Homo sapiens: one gene and its partner. The protein of the gene in region 2 purifies or fractionates together with the protein of the main gene of each other region. This does not show direct contact. Each region holds a gene or a part of one and is shown on either strand. Other genes may lie near its edges.

Region 1 (3,826 bases), on a different chromosome or scaffold from region 2:
TTTTAACCTATATCTTCCACACTAACCTAGTTTGTCTATAGAAAAGCCATCTGCTGGCACCAGGCCAGTATGTCTTAATTTTCTTGTTATTCTAAGTATCTCATTTTTCCAAAAGAGGAAATGTGTAAGTAGCAGGTGTACATAGGTGACACATTTCTACAAAGCCTTCTCTGTAGTCTTGACCTGTGTGGGGACAGGGTCTACTTTTGGAAGCATTTTCAAAGGCAGAATAAAACTTTACTTGAGGTTTTCTCCATAGAAGGACACCAGAGTTGTGCCCATATGATGAGTCCCTCGTTGGTGTTGAATAAATTGTCTTTTCTCCAGGAAATAACCTTTGTTCTTTCATATTTACAGGTTTCTTTTGATGGACAGATGGAGTAATCTCCAAAACAAGAAATGGGGCAGAAGCAGTTTCTTTTCTGATCATGTCTCTGATGAAATGATAGGTCCTAGACTTTTCTGATACCTTGTATGGTGTGGGGAGGGGCTGGGCTGTGTCCTGGGATGGATGTACAGGCTGCTGTCTGGACCGGGGCTGTTCAGAGCCCCGTGGCCTTTTCCTGATGTTCCCTGCGCATCCAGCGCATCCACACTTTCAGGAATAATCATCTTGAGGAATTTCATCCCCAGCTGTTTAAATCAGAGTTCCATTTGCTGGAAAACAGAGAGAACCTAAATGAATTAACCCTTGGCTTTTTGGTATAACTTTTAACAAACATAATAATTCCATCATTCAGATTTCCAAATAGAGGCCAAGACGTAGTTTTATGCCCACTTGGTCTCCCAAATCTCTTGTTCACTGTGAATCTGTCTACTCCCATCACTTCCTCAGGAGCTGCAGAGAGAATTGTGGCAGACTAGAAGAGCAAAAGCTCATGACCAATATTACAGGCCAACATTCATAAATGCAACTTAGCATAGCTTTTTCTCCTTTCCTCTTCTGGAAGTTTTTAATCATGTCCCTGAGGTGGTAAGGAGCTTAGGAAATTAAAAGTGCACAAAAATGTTATCTAACAAGGAGAGGGAAAAGCAAAAGGTAAATGAAGAAAAGATGGAAACTCAATGTAATTCAGTTTGATATCCAATGCAGGCAATATAAGGGTCAGCAGAAAAGGGAGGCTGGATTCATGGGGTTTCTCAAAGCAAGGAGGACCCAAGGGGGAAAAAAAAGCAATTTTGGTGATTTTGAATGTAATAGTAAGAACTTCTTGCTCCATTGTAATTCCAGGGATCCCAGAATTACAATGGGATTCAGCAATATGAGTACAATTTAATTTGGAAGCAAGGCAGGAGACATAAGTCACTCTTTGAAACACAGATGGACTTATATAGCTGAAGTGGGTAAAATAAGGCTCCCATTAGCATTTCATTTGGAGAAAAAAGCAAGGAAGATGGAAATACCTAATTATACTTTAAAAGAAAGAAAAAGAATGTGTGAAGATGGTTGACGGTTTCAGGTCCTCTGTAAAAAAGGTGGCTTCTTCCTTCATATAAAACACTGTCTGGAGGATCAATTTAATTTATAATTAGGGAGATGAGAACGAACAGGTAAATGAATTGTTTGTTCTTTGTGGGTGTCCCCCCTGCTGTACATGCTCATCCTCCTCCTCTCTGGAGGTGTAGGTGGGTGGGGTCATTTCACTAGTGTTGTCTCAGTTAGGCCTCCATTCCTACTTTCCTTTGAAAGCTGTTCTTCTTGTGTACTCAACCCAGAAAATTCCAGGCCTATTGTCCTCAGCCCTCACTAGAGTCCTAGATACGCACCGTTTTATTTTCTTTTTTTGGTGTAAAGATTCAGTTAAAAAATATCTTCCTTCAGACATCTGCTGACTACAGGAAATTATTGTCATAGCCCATGTGAAGGTCATAATGAGACTAAGATGACGTTTTAAAACTCCTGAACTCTGTAGGGAAAAGCAAGTAGAAGCTATTATTCTTACTCGCTGGTAACATACTGTAGATAGCTCCAGGACTGAGACCCGAGGCCCGGAGGACACACTTAGTGTTCTCCCTATGTCACAGTCCTACAGGCCAGCAAAAGTGAGTACAACTGTCCCAGCATGTCAGTTACACATACTGGCCCTAAATGTTCAGCATAATTTAAAAGGGAAAGAAAAAAGTTGGCTTTTCAGACAAAATTTTGTGTGAACTGAACAACGTCAGACTATGCTTCTTTGGGTCCAAATAATTTTAACTTTACAGCTCTCAGATGTTCTGGCAGCTCATTCTTTGTTCATTTCACCTATTATACAAGTGTTTCTGGGTCCAAGCCACAGAGCAAAATAGACACAAATAAATCAAATAATAAATGTTTCATATAAAGGAGAAAATGCTAATGGTCTGTTATCTATACCAGCAGTCCCCAACTTTTCTGGCACCAGGGACTGGTTTCATGGAAGACAATTTTTGCAGGGACCCAGGAAGTGCGGGGTAGTGGGTGGTAGGATGGCTTTGGGATGAAACTGTTCCGCCTCAGATCCTCAGGCATTGAGGAGCCTGCAACCTAGATCCCTCACATGTGCAGTTCACAACAGGGTTTGTGCTCCTATGAGAATCTAATGCCGCTGCTGTGACAGCGGGCGGAGCTCAGGTGGTAATGCTTGCTCACCTGCCGCTCACCTCCTGCTGTGCAGCCCAGTTCCTGACAGGCCATGGACCAGTATGGTCCGTGACCTGGGGGTTGGGGACCCCTGATCTACACTACTGCACTGTAGGCTCTAAGGGAACTTAAAAACAGAAAAATAATGGAGAGAAGGTGTTTGTAGAACACAGACATGTCAGCAAAGGCACTGAGTATCTACTCCTGAGTGGTTACCTTTCCCTTTCCCTTCAGTTGCTCTCAGCCATGCTTTCGGTGTCACAATCTTTTGGTGGTTCTCCTCCTCCTGGCAACTCACTCTCGATTTCCCACAGGACATCGTCTTCCTCCTCCAAGTTGCTGGAGATATGGCACTTCTTGAACCCTTGGACGATGGACTCACTTGAGATGCTATTCCACGCGACCATGACCCACTCCAGAAAGAGGCCCAGGGGTGGCTTCTTAGCATTCCCGGTTGGGCTCAGCGCCAGGTTCCCAGCCAGAAGCCAGTTGGAGTACTGGGCCCGCACACTGTCATTCAGTGGCTTGTAGACCACGACATCCAGCACCTGAAGCTGTGAGGTCAGACCCCCTGGGATGATCACCATGTCAGTGTTCATGCTTTCCATGGAGTTCTTCACGGAATCTGTGGCATGGCCCCGGAAGCCATTCAAGATCAGCATCCCTCGCTGCTTGGGCACTGCTCCTGTCCTCCGTCTCCACACCACTTCCAACCAGTCCTGCATCAAGTCTTCAGTCATCCACCCATACCGGTGGCAGCGAATTTCCATCCCACTGGGAAACTTCCCCGGGGGGATATATGTTCCCCTCAAAATGATGTACGGTGGTAACTTCCTCCCATCAGCCAAGACACCAAGCATTGCTGTGATTTTCAGTTTTTCCCTGCCTGGTGTCTTGACCAAGACAGGCTTTTCGCCCTGGTTATCAACAGTTACCCGTGATGGCACCTCTAAACAAATGGGCGTCTCATCTGCATTCCCCATCTGAGCTACCTCATAGTCATGCGCCCTGCGCAGAGCCAGGACACTGCGCTGGTAAGTGACGAGTTTCTCAGTCAGGTCTTCCGGCAGGTGCTGGGGCACGGGCACTTTATGCCTCAGAGACAGGTCATACCTTCTCATCATTCTTCGACACCAACCCAAGCTTGCCTTGAACCCTTTCTCTGGAATGTTCATTTCCTGGGCGATTTCGAGAGCTTTCAGCTGCATCGCCTCCCGGGTGATG
Region 2 (3,614 bases):
GATATACTGAAATCCTCTACAAGTGATGATGATGATGATGATGATGATGATGATGCTGCTGATGATGCAGAAGATTAAGAAGAGGAGCAGTGCCATTGATTTGGACACGCGAAAAATTTGCAGCAGATCTTGGGGCATCTATAGCCTCTGCAAGTTGCAAGTGTTAAAGATAATCAACCTCAGCTAACATCCTTTGATTGAAAAAAGCTTCTGTGTCATATAAGGGAAAATATGCTAATGAACACTAAGGTTTTTTTAGGGATTCAAAGAAAAAGAACTAGCTTCCTAAAACAATGCTTCTAACTAAATATCTGCAAATATGAAGACATACCCTTCAACACAAACATCTTCAGCCCTCAAGCTGAACAGATGCTGACATTAGTATTAGCCTCCTGCAAAGAGTCAACATCTTCAATCAGAACCTGGGTCTTCCAACATAGATGAAGGTCTTGATGTCCTGTCAAGATTCAAGTTAGCCTGAGGTCTCACTGTTTATCTATGATGCCACACATCTAGTCACCTCTACACATCACATTAGGCACCATACAGCAATCATCATTGTCATAACCATCGTAATACTTGGGTTATCAAGAGAGAAGAACCAGAATTGTGGTTGGTGTTAACACATTCTTTCAGGTCATTAGACAAAAGTAATCTGAGTATTGAAACAAGAAACTGTAACATTATAGGTGATATATACGATGTAGATAGGCCTGCAATGGTTGGGTCTGTACTGAACACATATAGATTTTTTTTCTTATGATTCCCTAAACAATACAACTATGTACACAGCTTTTACAATGCATGAGATATTTTAATTAATCTAGACATTTATAGAGTATACAGGAGAATGTGGGTAGGTACATGCGAATATTCCATTTTATAAAAGAGCTGGCATCTGTGGATTTAGGTATACTCAGGGTGTACTGGAACCAATCTTCTTGCATATAGCAGGCAGCAACTCTATTTGAAAGAAATGGAAACTTTTTTTTTTTTTTTTGAGATGGAGTCTCGCTCTAGCACCCAAGCTGGAGTGCAGTAGTGCAATCTCGGCTCACTGCAACCTCCACCTCCCGGGTTCAAGGGATTCTCCTGCCTCAGCCTCCTGAGTAGCTAGGACTACAGGTGTGAGCAACTATGCCTGGCTATTTTTTTTTTTTTCCGTATTTTTAGTAGAGACAGGGTTTCCCATGTTAGCCAGGCTGGTCTCGATCTCCTGGCCTCGTGATCTGCCCTCCTCGGCCTCTCAAAGTGCTGGGATTACAGGTGTGAGCCGCTGCGCCCAGCCTGGAAACTTCTTAAGGCTTTACCACGTTTACATTCACAGGATTTATTTCTTTCAAGTATCTGAATGTGATAAAACCAATGAATGCTTTCCCACATTCCATACACTTATAGAATATCCTTCCAGTGTGTCCTTTTATGTCTATTAAAGGAACTGAGAGAACTGAAGGCTTTCCCACATTCCTTACATTCATAGGGCTTCTCTCCAGTGTGAGTTCTTTCATGTTCTCGACAGAAACTGGAACGACTGAAGGCTTTACCACAGTGTTTACATTCATAGGGTCTTTCTCCAGTGTGAGTCCTTTCATGTCTTAGAAGGAAAGAGGGCCAAAAGAATGCTTTCCTGCATTGCTTACATTCATATGGCTTCTCTGCCGTGTGAGTCCTTTCATGAGTTTTTAAGTAACTGAAACGACTGAAGGCTTTGCCACAAATTTGACACTCATAAGATTTTTCTTCACTGTGAGTCCTTTCATGGCGACAAAAGTATTTAAAAGAACTAAATGCTTTCCCACACTCCTTACATTCATAAGGCTCCTCTTCACTGTGTGTTGTTTCATGACTTTGAAAGGAAAATAAATCACTAAAAGCTTTTCCACATTTACATTTATAGGGTTGCTCTCCAGTGTGTGTTGTTTCATGTTTTCGAAGGGAACTGGAAGTACGGAAGGCTTTCCCACATTGCTTGCATTCATAGGGTTTCTCTCCAGTGTGAGTCCTTTCATGTCTTTGAAATACACTAGGAGAATCAAAGGCTTTCCCACATACTGTGCATTTATGAGGGCCATCTCCAGTGTGTGCCATCATGTGTCTTCGAAAGCTTGAGCGATGAGATAACAATTTCCCACATTGCTTACATTCATAGGGTTTCTCTAGAGTGTGAGTTCCTTCATGAATTCGTGCTGAACCAGGAAAATCAAAGCCTTTCCCACATATCTTACATTTATGAGGTCCATCTCCACTGTGCATTATCATGTGTCTTTGAAAGCTTCCAAGATGACAAAACGCTTTCCCACACTGTTTACATGTATAGGGTTTCTCTCCAGTGTGAATTCTTTCATGTACTCGAAGGGAACCGGAAACACTGAAGGCTTTCCCACATTGTTTACATTTGTAGGGTTTCTCTCCAGTGTGAGTTCTTTCATGTCTTAGATATGAACTGTAATCAGGGAAGGCTTTAGAACACTGCTTACATTCATACGGTTTCTCCCCAGTGTGTATTTTTTCATGTCTTAGATAGGAACTGTAAACAGGGAAGGCTTTAGAACACTGCTTACATTCATATGGTTTCTCTCCAGTGTGAGTTCTTTCATGCATACGTAATAAACTGGGCCAAAAAAAGGCTTTCCCACACAATTCACATTTATAAGGTCCATCTCCACCTTTTACTACCATATGTCTTCGAAGGTTTCCAGGAGAACTGAAGGTTTTTCCACATTCCTTACAATCATAGGGTTTCTTTCCAGTGTGAGGCCTTTCACATGTTTGAAAGGAGTGGCGATAACTTAAGCCTTTCCCACACTGCTTATGTGTATATGACTTCTCTGCATATTCATGACACTCCCGGTGTTTGTGTCCAGTATCAACTCTGATGTAGCAATTCAGGGATGAATGACCCATTATGACTTCTCCATTCACACTGCTTCCACATGCATCTACTCTGGCGGGAGTGTTCTTGTTTACAATACTATTTCGAATCTGGCTTAAGGTTTCTCCACACTGACTACCATCTTTACTTTTACCAAATCTCTCTACCACATCACACCTGTAAAAAATGAAAAGTACATTACTAAAGGTTTATTATTGAATTTATATTTATCAACAGGTATTAGATTTACATTTTTAACATTATCAGGCAAGCTATAAGCTTCATGTCCTGCTTCAATGTGAATGGACTGAATGTTGTGCAAGATAACTCAATCCCAGCTATTTTCAAGACAATGATATGCACATGGGGATTCTTAATTCTTTTTTTTTTTTTTTTTTTTTTTTGAGATGGAGTCTCCCTCTGTCATCAGGCTGGAGTGCAGCTGGTGCTGTCTCGGCTTGCTGCAACCTCCGCCTCCCAGGTTCAAGTGATTCTCCTGCCTCAGCCTCCCAAGTAGCTGGGACTACAGGCATGCACCACCACACCCAGCTAATTTTTGTGTATTTTTAGTAGAGATGGGGTTTCACCATGTTGGCCAGGTTGGTCTCGATCTCCTGACCTCGTGGATCCACCCACCTCGGCCTCCCAAAGTGCTGGGATTACAGGCATAAGCCACTGCGCCTGGCCTTTTTTTTTTTTTTAAGACAGGGTCTTGCTCTGTCACTTAGGTTAGAGTGCACCA

What was found.
Region 1: the proteins of ZNF44 (region 2) and POGK purify together in Homo sapiens (affinity purification with mass spectrometry; one large-scale study listed by BioGRID and IntAct). This does not show direct contact.

What each region holds. Positions count from the first base shown.
Region 1 is NC_000001.11:166,849,416-166,853,241, reverse strand, and holds part of POGK (pogo transposable element with KRAB domain), read right to left. Parts: coding exon 2,833-3,826; 3' UTR 2,819-2,832; exon of another isoform or gene 658-2,818; 3' UTR 1-657.
Region 2 is NC_000019.10:12,271,015-12,274,628, forward strand, and holds the end of ZNF44 (zinc finger protein 44), read right to left. Parts: intron 3,052-3,614; exon of another isoform or gene 3,050-3,051; coding exon 1,393-3,049; 3' UTR 794-1,392; downstream 1-793. UniProt on the Homo sapiens protein: May be involved in transcriptional regulation.